Linked DNA regions of Homo sapiens. Each later gene encodes a partner of the first gene's protein in a complex. Each region holds a gene or a part of one and is shown in the gene's direction. Other genes may lie near its edges.

Evidence for each region. The genes of interacting proteins can lie anywhere in the genome.
Region 2: the proteins of EGFR (region 1) and EGF are in contact, whole or in part, in a crystal structure (PDB 3NJP), measured with the Homo sapiens proteins. Residues at the interface, in NP_005219.2 of Homo sapiens: Ser35, Asn36, Lys37, Leu38, Thr39, Gln40, Leu41, Gly42, Asp46, Arg53, Tyr69, Ala92, Leu93, Glu114, Leu122, Ser123, Tyr125, Asn152, Leu349, His370, Leu372, Pro373, Val374, Arg377, Asp379, Ser380, Phe381, Thr382, Leu406, Gln408; in NP_001954.2 of Homo sapiens: Ser979, His980, Asp981, Gly982, Tyr983, Leu985, His986, Met991, Ile993, Ala995, Leu996, Lys998, Ala1000, Cys1001, Asn1002, Cys1003, Val1005, Tyr1007, Ile1008, Gly1009, Glu1010, Arg1011, Gln1013, Tyr1014, Arg1015, Asp1016, Leu1017, Lys1018, Trp1019, Trp1020.

What each region holds. Positions count from the first base shown.
Region 1 is NC_000007.14:55,014,831-55,022,016, forward strand, and holds the start of EGFR (epidermal growth factor receptor isoform a precursor), read left to right. Parts: upstream 1-4,186; 5' UTR 4,187-4,447; coding exon 4,448-4,535; intron 4,536-7,186. UniProt on the Homo sapiens protein: Receptor tyrosine kinase binding ligands of the EGF family and activating several signaling cascades to convert extracellular cues into appropriate cellular responses.
Region 2 is NC_000004.12:109,908,757-109,915,890, forward strand, and holds the start of EGF (pro-epidermal growth factor isoform 1 preproprotein), read left to right. Parts: upstream 1-4,126; 5' UTR 4,127-4,579; coding exon 4,580-4,706; intron 4,707-7,134.

The sequences.
Region 1 (7,186 bases):
GAGCCTGTGTCCCTGGACTGTGAACTTCATGCTTGCTTCTCAGCTTCCCCAGCCCCTTAGATGGTACAGAACTGTTGGAGGGGGGTGGAGTTGTATATTTCCCTTGCTCTGGGTAGGTCACCCTCTGATAAAACACCAGGTTAGGCCTCTGGTGAAATAATTTCTCCTGAGGGCAGACCTTCTATTAATAATAGAATGTTCCAACCTATTTCAAAATGGTTCCTCTTCTCCTTCCACTGCCAGAAGCATAATGAGATTTTCCCCCTAATATTCGTGGTAAGGACCTAGCAGAGCTCCAGGAGGTAACACTCTCAAGTGTCTCATACTACCCTGCACCATGACTGGGCTCTGCTGGAGTTCTTAATTTGCAGAACTGCCCACACTGAGCCTCCCGCAATTTCTCAATTACAGGGCAAACTTTCCCAGCCGGCACTGGGTCCTTGGAGGTTTCTGTCTGCTGGTTTCTTCCTCTGGAGGTTGTGCTTCTGTGTTTGCCTGTCTCTCCAATTTGGGGGGCAGTGGTTTGCCCAATGACCTCAATTCTCTGAAAGAGCTAAGAAGAGGTGTTAATTTTTCGGTTTGCTCAGCTTTCTACTTGTTGCTAGAATGGAGCGCCAATAGTGCCTCCTATAGTGACATGTAACCCTCAACTCTAGAGATGATGAAGCATACTAATGACAAAGGAGAAATGCTTCAGCAGTTTTCTGTCAGCACATTACCCCTTGAAAAAGCTGCTTCTTCCACATTCTGCAAGAGATGGGTCTCAACTCAGAGCTCAAGGCAAATGACTTCCTTCAAGGAGAAGGAATAAACAGTCTCAGAAACCATGAAAGCCTGCCCCCAGGAGTGTCCCTGAACCTCAGCAGGGGCCACACTTACCTTGCAGAAATAGGTGAGGCATGCTCCTGGTACAAAATCCCAATGGTACAGAAGGACAAATTGAAAAACAAGTCTCCCTCTAAACCCCTGACCCCGAGCTACCTAGTTCTCCTCCCTAGAGGCAAAGCTGTTACCAGATTCTTGTATCTCCTTAACATATATCCTTAGAAGAGCTGTCAAGTGAACACATGTTTAAGTGAAAACCTATTTTAGAAGTGCATTTTCTTAAGGAACTTTAGGGTTGGAAGGAACCTGTGTCAGTCCTTAATTCACAACCTCCATTAGTACTTATTGTTCTTGCACAAAAATCTTTCTCAAAAAAGCCCTTTCCACTCTGACATAGCTTATTCTACTTTTACTTAGCTCCAATAACTTATAAAACATATTTTTGAAAGTCTAAAATCTGCCACTATGTTTTTTTTTCCTAATCAATCTTTACTTTGACCTCTAAGCCAGAGAAAACAGGTGGTCAAATGCCTTTTGCCTAAGATGGAACTTAGAATATTTGAAGACCTCAGATCTTCACCCTGCCAAATAACGTGTTTCTCCTCCCCTTTCACAGAGCATTTGGTTTTAGGAAATTCAGAGCCACATTCCTTATAGACAAGACTAAACTCTTATTCAACATACTCAGAAACTTCTTCTAAGAGGATAACCACTCATCAGAGGAAAAAAGTTTCTCATGTACAGCTGGCAAAGGGATGGAACCATCTGTGTTATTAAAATTGACAGACGCTTATGAGATTTATTAAGGGAAATACTAGAGTCTTAGTACATACTTGCTAATATAGCATACATGAAGGCTTTATCTATAATTTTTTTGGCCAAGCAGAAATTTTGGTATTACTCACCCTAACAAATTTCCAAGACATTATGAAATAGAATTTTAGGTCCTGACATCACCATTTGTCTCAGGTTTTGAAGCGTTGCTGGACAAGAGGGGTAAAACACGGCTCTGCCTTGGATTCAAAGTTGGCCTCTCATACTAGCAAGTATACCTTGGTATCCTGGTCACTTCTCCCGGCCACAGCATCACATTGCTATAAAAGGCAGATACAAGTATTAACCAGCTCACAGGTTATCAGATAAGCTTAGTCTGACCAATGCTTAACACAGCAACTGGGCCACTATTGTCATTCCTGTGGTGGTGGCACACACACCCAGCCTCTGTCCGGGCCATGGTCTAGGACCACCCTCCACAGAGGCTGTGAGCTAGAGCCCTAACTGTGCAGGGCCCTAACTATGCCAGGCTACTTATCTCTCTTAAGAGGACTTCATTAGTGCCTGCTCGGCCATACAGTTTTTTACTTACCAAGTAACACAGTTATCAGCACACTCCAGGTACTAGCCAAGGACTACAAAATCAACGTGAATGTCAGCTTTTGTATCAAAAGCTCAAAGGAGAAACTCAAACTTTACATAGATGTCCCATGAAGATGTTCAGCAAACCCATTCTTCTCTGTTCCCTGGAATCCATCCCAGTATTGTGCTATGTGTGTGTCTAGTAATTCTTTACAAAAAGCTCTGTTTCTTGTGATGCTATCAGATCACATTGAAGAATATACAAGCCGTACTATGAAGGCTGTTGTCTCATATAGTCCTAACGTAGTGAGAACTGATGTTCTTACATGCTGTCTTTTTGGGCACTCAAAGAAATTCCTGTACAGTCTTACAAATCAGTTGTAGCTTAAATTGATTTGTGTTGTGACTTGTACACACAGGTCACATTCCCTTGACAGAAAATATAGTTTAAAACCAAATTTGCAGCCCTTGTTAAGTGAATGCACAGGACTTTATTGTATTCAGGTCTTTTATTGTAAGACTCACTCCTGTCTTCATTTTATGTTCCACTGTTGTGCTTCCCATTTGCCTTTCTCTAGTTTTGTTTTCTGTGTTTCTACGGACTGCTCTCAGCCCAGGTGTGCAGGAAGCACACACATGCCTGCAGAGCCTTCATGGCCTCTGCATTCAGGGCATGACTTCAACGCACAGTGGCTGTACTGATTTGTTAAAACAAAGGAACAGATTACTTCTCCTAATTCACAGGGAAGTTCCAGGTTGTGCGGGCAGTGAGCAGACCTGTGTCTGTCTGCGCTTGCCCTGGTGAAAAACCCCACCGTTCAGGCTGCAGGGTGCGAGACCCAGGCACAAACATTTTGCTGGATGAGGAGGAAAGATGTAAGGTTGCTCCCCTTCAGAGACAGCAAAGGGCAGGTCTGTAGCTTCACTTACTTCAGGATTGTGATTTTTGACAGAGCCGAGAGATCAGGGTTGTTGAACCAGGCCTGAAGGTCCTAGTGAATCTCGTGAAGAGAGGAGGGGTCTGGCTGTAACATGGACCTAGAGGACATTTTTACTGCAGGAGAAGGAACAGTGGGGATGGGGTGGACTTGCCAAAGGAATATAGCTCAAGTTCCTGCAGCCCAAAAAAGCTCAGTTTCTTTTGGCCAAAGCTTCCGCGAGTTTCCCTGGCATTTCTCCTGCGGGAGCTACAGGGGCAGTGGGACACTTAGCCTCTCTAAAAGCACCTCCACGGCTGTTTGTGTCAAGCCTTTATTCCAAGAGCTTCACTTTTGCGAAGTAATGTGCTTCACACATTGGCTTCAAAGTACCCATGGCTGGTTGCAATAAACATTAAGGAGGCCTGTCTCTGCACCCGGAGTTGGGTGCCCTCATTTCAGATGATTTCGAGGGTGCTTGACAAGATCTGAAGGACCCTCGGACTTTAGAGCACCACCTCGGACGCCTGGCACCCCTGCCGCGCGGGCACGGCGACCTCCTCAGCTGCCAGGCCAGCCTCTGATCCCCGAGAGGGTCCCGTAGTGCTGCAGGGGAGGTGGGGACCCGAATAAAGGAGCAGTTTCCCCGTCGGTGCCATTATCCGACGCTGGCTCTAAGGCTCGGCCAGTCTGTCTAAAGCTGGTACAAGTTTGCTTTGTAAAACAAAAGAAGGGAAAGGGGGAAGGGGACCCTGGCACAGATTTGGCTCGACCTGGACATAGGCTGGGCCTGCAAGTCCGCGGGGACCGGGTCCAGAGGGGCAGTGCTGGGAACGCCCCTCTCGGAAATTAACTCCTCAGGGCACCCGCTCCCCTCCCATGCGCCGCCCCACTCCCGCCGGAGACTAGGTCCCGCGGGGGCCACCGCTGTCCACCGCCTCCGGCGGCCGCTGGCCTTGGGTCCCCGCTGCTGGTTCTCCTCCCTCCTCCTCGCATTCTCCTCCTCCTCTGCTCCTCCCGATCCCTCCTCCGCCGCCTGGTCCCTCCTCCTCCCGCCCTGCCTCCCCGCGCCTCGGCCCGCGCGAGCTAGACGTCCGGGCAGCCCCCGGCGCAGCGCGGCCGCAGCAGCCTCCGCCCCCCGCACGGTGTGAGCGCCCGACGCGGCCGAGGCGGCCGGAGTCCCGAGCTAGCCCCGGCGGCCGCCGCCGCCCAGACCGGACGACAGGCCACCTCGTCGGCGTCCGCCCGAGTCCCCGCCTCGCCGCCAACGCCACAACCACCGCGCACGGCCCCCTGACTCCGTCCAGTATTGATCGGGAGAGCCGGAGCGAGCTCTTCGGGGAGCAGCGATGCGACCCTCCGGGACGGCCGGGGCAGCGCTCCTGGCGCTGCTGGCTGCGCTCTGCCCGGCGAGTCGGGCTCTGGAGGAAAAGAAAGGTAAGGGCGTGTCTCGCCGGCTCCCGCGCCGCCCCCGGATCGCGCCCCGGACCCCGCAGCCCGCCCAACCGCGCACCGGCGCACCGGCTCGGCGCCCGCGCCCCCGCCCGTCCTTTCCTGTTTCCTTGAGATCAGCTGCGCCGCCGACCGGGACCGCGGGAGGAACGGGACGTTTCGTTCTTCGGCCGGGAGAGTCTGGGGCGGGCGGAGGAGGAGACGCGTGGGACACCGGGCTGCAGGCCAGGCGGGGAACGGCCGCCGGGACCTCCGGCGCCCCGAACCGCTCCCAACTTTCTTCCCTCACTTTCCCCGCCCAGCTGCGCAGGATCGGCGTCAGTGGGCGAAAGCCGGGTGCTGGTGGGCGCCTGGGGCCGGGGTCCCGCACGTGCGCCCCGCGCTGTCTTCCCAGGGCGCGACGGGGTCCTGGCGCGCACCCGAGGGGCGGGCGCTGCCCACCCGCCGAGACTGCACTGTTTAGGGAAGCTGAGGAAGGAACCCAAAAATACAGCCTCCCCTCGGACCCCGCGGGACAGGCGGCTTTCTGAGAGGACCTCCCCGCCTCCGCCCTCCGCGCAGGTCTCAAACTGAAGCCGGCGCCCGCCAGCCTGGCCCCGGCCCCTCTCCAGGTCCCCGCGATCCTCGTTCCCCAGTGTGGAGTCGCAGCCTCGACCTGGGAGCTGGGAGAACTCGTCTACCACCACCTGCGGCTCCCGGGGAGGGGTGGTGCTGGCGGCGGTTAGTTTCCTCGTTGGCAAAAGGCAGGTGGGGTCCGACCCGCCCCTTGGGCGCAGACCCCGGCCGCTCGCCTCGCCCGGTGCGCCCTCGTCTTGCCTATCCAAGAGTGCCCCCCACCTCCCGGGGACCCCAGCTCCCTCCTGGGCGCCCGCGCCGAAAGCCCCAGGCTCTCCTTCGATGGCCGCCTCGCGGAGACGTCCGGGTCTGCTCCACCTGCAGCCCTTCGGTCGCGCCTGGGCTTCGCGGTGGAGCGGGACGCGGCTGTCCGGCCACTGCAGGGGGGGATCGCGGGACTCTTGAGCGGAAGCCCCGGAAGCAGAGCTCATCCTGGCCAACACCATGGTGTTTCAAAATGGGGCTCACAGCAAACTTCTCCTCAAAACCCGGAGACTTTCTTTCTTGGATGTCTCTTTTTGCTGTTTGAAGAATTTGAGCCAACCAAAATATTAAACCTGTCTTACACACACACACACACACACACACACACACACACCGGATTGCTGTCCCTGGTTCAAGTGTGCCAAGTGTGCAGACAGAACATGAGCGAGTCTGGCTTCGTGACTACCGACCATAAACCCACTTGACAGGGGAAACATGCCTTGGAAGGTTTAATTGCACAATTCCAACCTTGAGCTGCGCGGGTTCCAAGAGCCAGGCCCGTACTTGCTGTTGATGTCATTGGCTTGGGGAGTTGGGGTTTGGTGCCCAGCGCGGTCGTTGGGGGAGGGGCAAGGCATAGAACAGTGGTTCCCAGACCTTGCTGCACATTGGAATTACCTGGGATTAAAAAAAAAAAAATCAAAACAAAAACCAGTGTCTGGCTCCCGCCCCCAGACATTCTGATTTAATTGGCATGGGGCAAGACCTGGACTTGGGATTTTTTTTAATGCTCTTCATGTGATCTGTTGGGCAGCCAGATTTGGGGATCACTAGACGGAAGAAGGATTGTTAAAGTCTCCGGAGATGTTACTTGCCAATGCTAAGAGCTCTTTGAGGACATCTGGAATTGTTACAATATTGCCAAATATAGGAAAGAGGGAAAAGGTAGAGTGTGATTCCAATAATAAAGGATTCCGCTTTTCATTGAAGGAACTGGTGGAAAGGTTTCTTCTCTGCTGAGCCTGCAGGCCCGTCCTGCCTGCCTGGGGTGCCCGGGAGACGCGGGCCTGCTCCGGAGACTGCTGACTGCCGGTCCTGTTAGTCAGGTGTCAGCCCTGTCTCTGCCGAAGAGACTCTTCTCTTTATTTTAAATTAAACCCTCAGAGCACCACCAAAGCATCACTTTTCTCCCTCCATTGGTGTTCTCATTCTTTGATGTTACTTGTTTGAACACCACTATTAGTAGTTGGAGATTTGTTCCTGAGAAAAATATAAATACCACTTAATTTGCCTGTTTGTCCCGCATTCACTCAAAACAGAATGCTCCTGAAGACAAGAGAGAGAGTAGGAGAACAGACGCTATTCCATTACAGTAACATAAAAGACTGGATTTTCAGGGGCAAATTATTAAAATAGGAGATGAGCTCTTTTAACAGAAATTTGTTTAAGGCCTGTGTCTATCAAATTCAGTGGATTTTATTCAAGATGCACTTTGTTTAGTGGGAGTTTTGTTTGGTTCTGGGACATGCTAACTTCTAGACTTGCTGCTCTTAGAGGTAATGACTGCCAGACACCATTTCATGAGTCCTAATCCCCACATTAAGCATAAGAGGTGCACACTCTCCTCCTATGGGGGAAACTGAGGTACGAAGAACTAAAGTGACTTTCCCACAGCTGGTGGGAGGCAGACGGGAAATTCACACCAGGGGCTTCCAACTCCAGATCCCTCTCTCAACTTCCAAACTCCACTGCCTTGTCCGAGTTCTGGTTTCAGGAGATCCAAATCAGGTGTGTGCAAATGTCTAATGTCAGAGCTG
Region 2 (7,134 bases), on another chromosome or scaffold:
GTGGGTGAAGACATGGAAAAATGGATCTCACATATATTGCTGGAGAGAGTATAAAATGGAACAGCCACTTTGGAAAAATATTTGGCAGTTACTTATGAAGTTAAACATATATCTACCCTATGAACTAGTAATTAGGTATTAAATGTTGAGAAATGAAAACATTCATTGAGCCAAACCTGGAAACAATCCAAAGGTTCATGAACAAGAGAATAGATAAACAAATTGTACTATATTCATACAAAAATACTTCCCAGCAATAAAAAAGAATAAAGTACTGATATGCACAACCTACAAGAGTCTCAAAAACATTATGTTAAACAAAAGAAGCAAGACCCAAAGTTAAACGTGCTGTATGATTGCCTTTATATAAAGTTCAAGAACAGACAAAACTTATCTATGATGAGAGAAAGAAGAACAATGGTTACCTATGAGCGGGATTCACTGGAAGGAGTATATGGAAAATTTTGACGGTAAAGGAAATGTTCTATGCTTGGAAATTTCTACCAAAAATGGTGTTTTTTAAAAGACAGTTTGAGGTATTGATGAAGTGTATATATACATTTATCACAACTCATCAGATTGTACACTTAAGATCTGTTCACTTTATATAAATTTTACTTTAATGAAAATGAAAAAGAATGCATCTTAATTAGAAATCAGGCTGGGAAAACCAAAGGAAAGCAACTTAATTTATTTTGTTTCTCTGGTATTTAAAATTGAAATAATCCATATGTCACCAACTCAAATATTTTCTCTCCACCATCTATTTTATACATCTTTCCAGTTTTGAGTGGCAAGCAAAGAGGATACTAATTCACAGTTTTTTGTTTTGTTTTGTATTTTTAGTAGAGATGGAGTTTCACCATATTGGCCAGGCTGGTCTTGAACTTCTGACCTTGTGATCCACCCACCTCAGCCTCCCAAAGTGTTGGGATTACAGGCGTGAGCCACCGTGCCCTGCCTGATTCACAGTTTTATACATATAATAAGAGCTGCAAATAGTGGTTTGCATTTTCATTACTTCCAGCAAGTAGTGTTTCATTATATGCATTTTACAGTATCTTTAGTTCTCTTGTCAAGCCTTGTAGAGCACTTGAAGTGCTCTTCATTTAATGGTACTCTACTTCTCATAGGTTGAGCAGAACTGAAGGGTAGGGAAAGATTGTTTTGGGAAATCCAGAATTCTTTCCCTAAACCTTTACATTTTTAGAAACTAAAATACCTGGGAGAATGATGAGGAGACATGCTGTAATTAAGGAAGTAATCTGTTGATGGTGTGGCGGTGGCAATGATTAGTAAGAGGTGCTGAGCACAGTAAATACATAACCCAGGAGAACTAGGTGCCCTGTGTTTCAATGAGGAAATTTCATCGGAAAAGTTAGAATTTTATGACAAGCACACATAAACATATGTCCCAATAGTCCCTTCCAGCTATTGCTGTCCACTCACACTTATAACCATTCAGAGCTATCTCCTTGCTATTAATGTCTAACTTTCTTACTGACCTACCAGCAGGGTTTCCCCCACCCAGCTGTGTCCCTTCAGGATCTAAGGAACTATTAAATAAGAAAAAAAATTTTTGTCCATTCCTGTTCCACATCCTGTCAGCATGACCCTTCTCCTTCTCTATGTCCTTCTGAGGCATCCTAATTACTCCACAGAGCTTCACACTGCATGCTGTAGTCCAAAGTACATTGCAGCTCCCCTCCTTCTTTCCTGACACCCAGTTTGTGACCAGTCATGTACTTGGTGGCTGGTCATTCATTAGCTCATACTCATACTCTCTGTTGTTGCTGTTAATCAACCTCAGCAAGCTCTTGATGTTAAGGACTACGACTTCTGTTTCTTGTACTCCAGGCAGTGCTCTATCATATATAGCTGTTTAATTAACGAATGAATTAGTTAACTTTAACTCAATTCCAGAAATTAAATCATATTTGGCAGCTCAAACCTATAAGTTATAGTGCATTTCTTATCAATTTTAAAATAAAGAGTTTATTTCAACCTTTCTTGAGTGCAAGAAAGGTTCAGTTTTATCCAGAAGTAGGAACATAAACTTATTATTTATTTATTTATTTATTTTTTTGAGATAGAGTCTTGCTCTGTCACCCAGGCTGGAGTGCAGTGGCGTGTTATCGGCTCACTGCAACCTCCGCCTCCTGGGTTCAAGCAATTCTCCTGCCTCAGCCTCATGAGTAGCTGGGACTATAGGCATGTGCCACCACGCCTGGCTAACTTTTTGTATTTTTAGTAGAGATGGGGTTTCACCGTGTTAGCCAGGATGGTCTAGATCTCCTGAAGTGTGATCTGCCCACCTTGGCCTCCCAAAGTGCTGGGATTACAGGCATGAGCCACCACGCCCGGCTGGAATATAAACTTATTAAATATCTCTGTAAATCCTTCCCAGTTGGGTAGCTCTGTCCTATGATTTTGCTATCTGGGCAACTGTAGATGATGAATTAGCTGCGATTGATTTTCATCATCAGTCATCAGCCATAGCATCTGCTATACCTCTGTTGACTCCGTCATCTCCTAGGGAGCTTGTACTCAACATTAATGACAACATTAGCCCAGGTGACATGTAATTAAGAAAGCAAACCTTTTTCCAACCAAAAATAATATGAGAGATTCCAAATCCAAACAGAACAGAGCTGTGGATCATTTCATGTTTGTCTTCATATCATTCTCTCCACTCCACTCCACTGACACAGCGTGATGCTTGATTGTCCTCTAAGCCCCTTCCATTGCTGTCATCTGGGATGCTGGCAATGTATTGTGCTGAAAGGGAAGCTTATTAATAAAGTTAGTAACTCGAAGAGTCAGTGCAGGTTATTTGTAGGATGCTCATTATGAGTCTTGAGTCTGACTCAGTCCAGAAAGCAATGGAATATTCCGCATAACCACCTAAAGGACTTCTCTTTCCCCCTTCCCCAGGGTCTGTTTCTCCTGTAAGGGTTCAGAGCTGCCTGGCAGAGGCTGGCTGAAATAGGAGAAATCCTGACTTAAGCTGTTTCAGGAAAGTGATCCAGTCTTTGGAGAATAATCAGGACATAATTAAGTATGAGTAAAAGGCTTAGAGTTAGTCTGTTCTCCTCTGTAATGGGGTGTTCACTAGTGTGACAGTTGTTTTTGTGACTATTGCTTTTACGTACATTTTTGACCAGCACTTGGAACACTACCTCAGGGTAACTTAAATGAAAGTCCATTTTCCAGGATGGAGTAAACTGACAGAAATTTCCATCGTGCATCAAATCTGCTATAAGTTGTTTGCCTTCTGGGTATTTTTGGGCCCTAGTTGTACTCCTGAAGAAATAACCACTGTTGCTCCAAGTAGAAAGTGGTTGAGGAGACAGCTAACAGATACGTCCAGTTCTTATTTTCTATCACAGAGATGTGAAAAAAAAAAAGCCTAAATTATCTTAGAAGGAAAAGCATTCCTCTGTGCTGGATTTCCAGTGCTTCCCAGCTTTGCACTGTTAGCTTATTTTTTCCAATGTCCCTATAATAACAATCCACTCCTTTCTCTGCACTCCTGGCCCCTCGTGATGTTTTATCATGCTCATGCTGAAAGAAAAGGTGTCTGTCCATACTGTATCTCTTCATTTGGCCTCAGGGATTTCCCTTTGATTTGGAAAGAATAATCTTTCAAATTCCGCTATAAACTATACAGGAGAAAGAGAAAAATAAGATAAAGCTCCTGGAATGTGCACTGGTATTGACATTTCGTTCAAATAATGGGCTGAAGGTGAACTATCTTTACTATTGCTCATGTGAATGATCAATTATTATCAATCCAAACTATCAACAGTGCTGCTTATTATTGATTTATACTGCATGGTTTAATTTTGTCTCCATCCTTCCAGACATTAAAACATAGCCAATATTTAGCAGTTCCCGCCATTCACCATGAGCACCTCCACAGCCCCCAACTCCTCTCTCCCAGTTCTGCCCAGGATATTTATGGTGAGTAGCGAGTTATCTCCTCTTTGGCAGTCATCCCTGCTTTCCTGTGTGGAGGAATTGCCCACATTCGCATTTGCAAACAGAGGCTCACTCAAGTGTCACTAAAGGAAAGGAGGTGGAGCCTGAAGAGCTTTAAAAAGCAAAGCTGAGTCATTCCACTTTTCAAAAAGAGAAACTGTTGGGAGAGGAATCGTATCTCCATATTTCTTCTTTCAGCCCCAATCCAAGGGTTGTAGCTGGAACTTTCCATCAGTTCTTCCTTTCTTTTTCCTCTCTAAGCCTTTGCCTTGCTCTGTCACAGTGAAGTCAGCCAGAGCAGGGCTGTTAAACTCTGTGAAATTTGTCATAAGGGTGTCAGGTATTTCTTACTGGCTTCCAAAGAAACATAGATAAAGAAATCTTTCCTGTGGCTTCCCTTGGCAGGCTGCATTCAGAAGGTCTCTCAGTTGAAGAAAGAGCTTGGAGGACAACAGCACAACAGGAGAGTAAAAGATGCCCCAGGGCTGAGGCCTCCGCTCAGGCAGCCGCATCTGGGGTCAATCATACTCACCTTGCCCGGGCCATGCTCCAGCAAAATCAAGCTGTTTTCTTTTGAAAGTTCAAACTCATCAAGATTATGCTGCTCACTCTTATCATTCTGTTGCCAGTAGTTTCAAAATTTAGTTTTGTTAGTCTCTCAGCACCGCAGCACTGGAGCTGTCCTGAAGGTACTCTCGCAGGAAATGGGAATTCTACTTGTGTGGGTAAGTACTCCAATGAAAAGGTGCTCCAGGTCTCCGGGAAACTGCCCCCACATCCCTGTTGGTTCAATCTGGTATACTTGGGCATTTAACAAAGTTTGTCTTTGGGTATGTATAGTTGCTTAATTTTTGTTTTCTGATGCATGTTTATTTTCTTACTGGCCATTAGAGCTAATCTGCTACCAACTATAAAACTTCATAACTCTCAAACTGTACTTCTGTGTATAAGTGAATGAATATGCCTCATTTTAAACTAGCAGAACATTTCATGGAAGCTTCAGCTTTTACTCTGACAAGAGGAGTAATTAACACCTGGCTAATTGCTTGGAAATTAGGGAAACAGATGGTTGATTTTTTGTTTGTCTGTTTGAAACTCTTAAGCCACAAAGAAAAAAATCCTTCCTTCTGATAACTTGTAAGAATTCAGAAGTTCTAAAAATTAGTGAAAAATGGAAAGGGAACTGTGAACAAAGGTAGTTGTGAAAATTAACCTAAATTTCAATTTCAACCTCCTTCACTTTCTCCCCACTCTTACTGTTTCTGAGGCTCTGACACAACTCCGGAGTTTTAGTAACAGGTGCATTGCAACTTTAAGAACTGCCAAATATGATAATGGGTAAATAAGCCACACTGTCCTCTCATATTAAATGAATTTTTTGCCAAGGGGAAATGGGAGCTTGACTGAATGCGAATTACAATCCTGCCAAAGGATATTGCCTGAAAAACATTCTCTCTCTAACTGTTAATTCATTTATTTAATCCTTGGGTGAGCCTCCAACCTGCTGCTTAGACACGGCAGCCGCCTTTGTTGATGAGAGGTTATAGCTGCCCCGACATTCCATTTTTATCAGCTTGCCCTTTTGAGATGGCGTCTGGCTTTTAAAAAGAGGTAGATTGAGGGGGAAAACACAGTACAGTTTCCAGAAGAGACACCTATGGAAGACAGTACACAATAGGCAATAGTTTGAATAAAGAGAGCAGAATGGAGCCAAACTGCCAAAGCTAGGCTGCTGTCCTGGCTCTCCCATTAAGGAAGTTCCCGATGAGGAAATCAGGTGCTTTTGCTCAGAATCTCTGGACTCTGTTCTCAGGTAGCACTCCTTGTAACAGGTGAGCAGAACTCTAGGGTATTTGAAATAAAGACTTAATCCTAGTGATCTCTATGTTCCCAGCACCTAGGACATTCCTGCTTCCACAGTGTGTACTCAGCAAATTCTTGTGTATGAATGAGGCGTCTTTCTCTGATCTGCTAATGACATAGTCCTAGAGAACAGCAACAAAAAGAGGGTGACAAATGACAAAAATGGCCCCATGAACCTCAGACTCAGCTGTTGGAGACAGAAGTAAAACTTCTGTATACAGTTATGTCAAATGGACTGGACTCTCTTTGGGGTGGGAGAATTTTCCGTGGAGTAGTTGGCAAATATCTAGAGTTGGGCACTGTCATTTGCATGGGATGTGAGGGGTGATGGTTGGGCCGATCTATCAGGCAGCCAGAAGCTAGGAAAGAAGAACCCAGGTTGCTGAAGCAGAACCCAAGAAATTACAAAAATGAGCTTTTATGGATGGCTCTAGGATCTCAGAATAGTCTGATTCCTGCTGGCAAGCAAGTCTATGCCTTGTTTTCCTTGCCACCTCTGGTGGCTCAGAAGTGCCTTCATTGAGGTAGGTTGTACCCAATAAACATGAAACCCAGGATAGAAACAATAAGTTGGGGAGACTGTGTCACAGAGTGGAAGGAACCACAGGTTTTAGAAACAAACAAGCCTCATTTCATATCCATGCTACCAACTTAATAGCTGAGTTACTTTAGAGTATCTCTGGGAAATAATACCCTCGCCCACTGCTTTTAGGATTTTTTTGTGGGGAATCACATGAGATAACCTAGCATGTACCAAAGCATGGTGCTTAGCAGAGTATGCTCAATAAATGTCCTCCTGGGCTCCACGTCTTGGCTAAATCTCTGATCAAGTCATACGATGAGATGCCGTATTTGAACAGTGCAGTGACACGGCACAGATCCATGGAGTGTGGAATGTGTGGATGGCACTTTGGGATTCCCTGCCTCTCTGCTACCTCATTTCTTGCAAGTCACTGGTTTAAATCCCGTACTTTACGCTCCTGGTCTCATGTTAGCTGATAACTGCCTGGGTCACCCTTTGTCAGTCACTGTGTGCATTTCAGAGGATAGTATTTCTTTCTCCTCTCTAAATAGATATGGTGCCATCATCTATTTTTCCCTCATTTAAATTCTACTTGCCTTATTTCTTGCCCTTGGCATTGAGACAGATCACCTCTGCAGCCACCTGACCCAGCAGGAAGAATGCTTTATGGTCTAACAGTATTCAGGTAAACTTATGCAAGATTGTTACTCATGTGACTGCTAGCCGGATAAACCAAGTGATAGCAACACAATTAGGTTTCTTTCTAT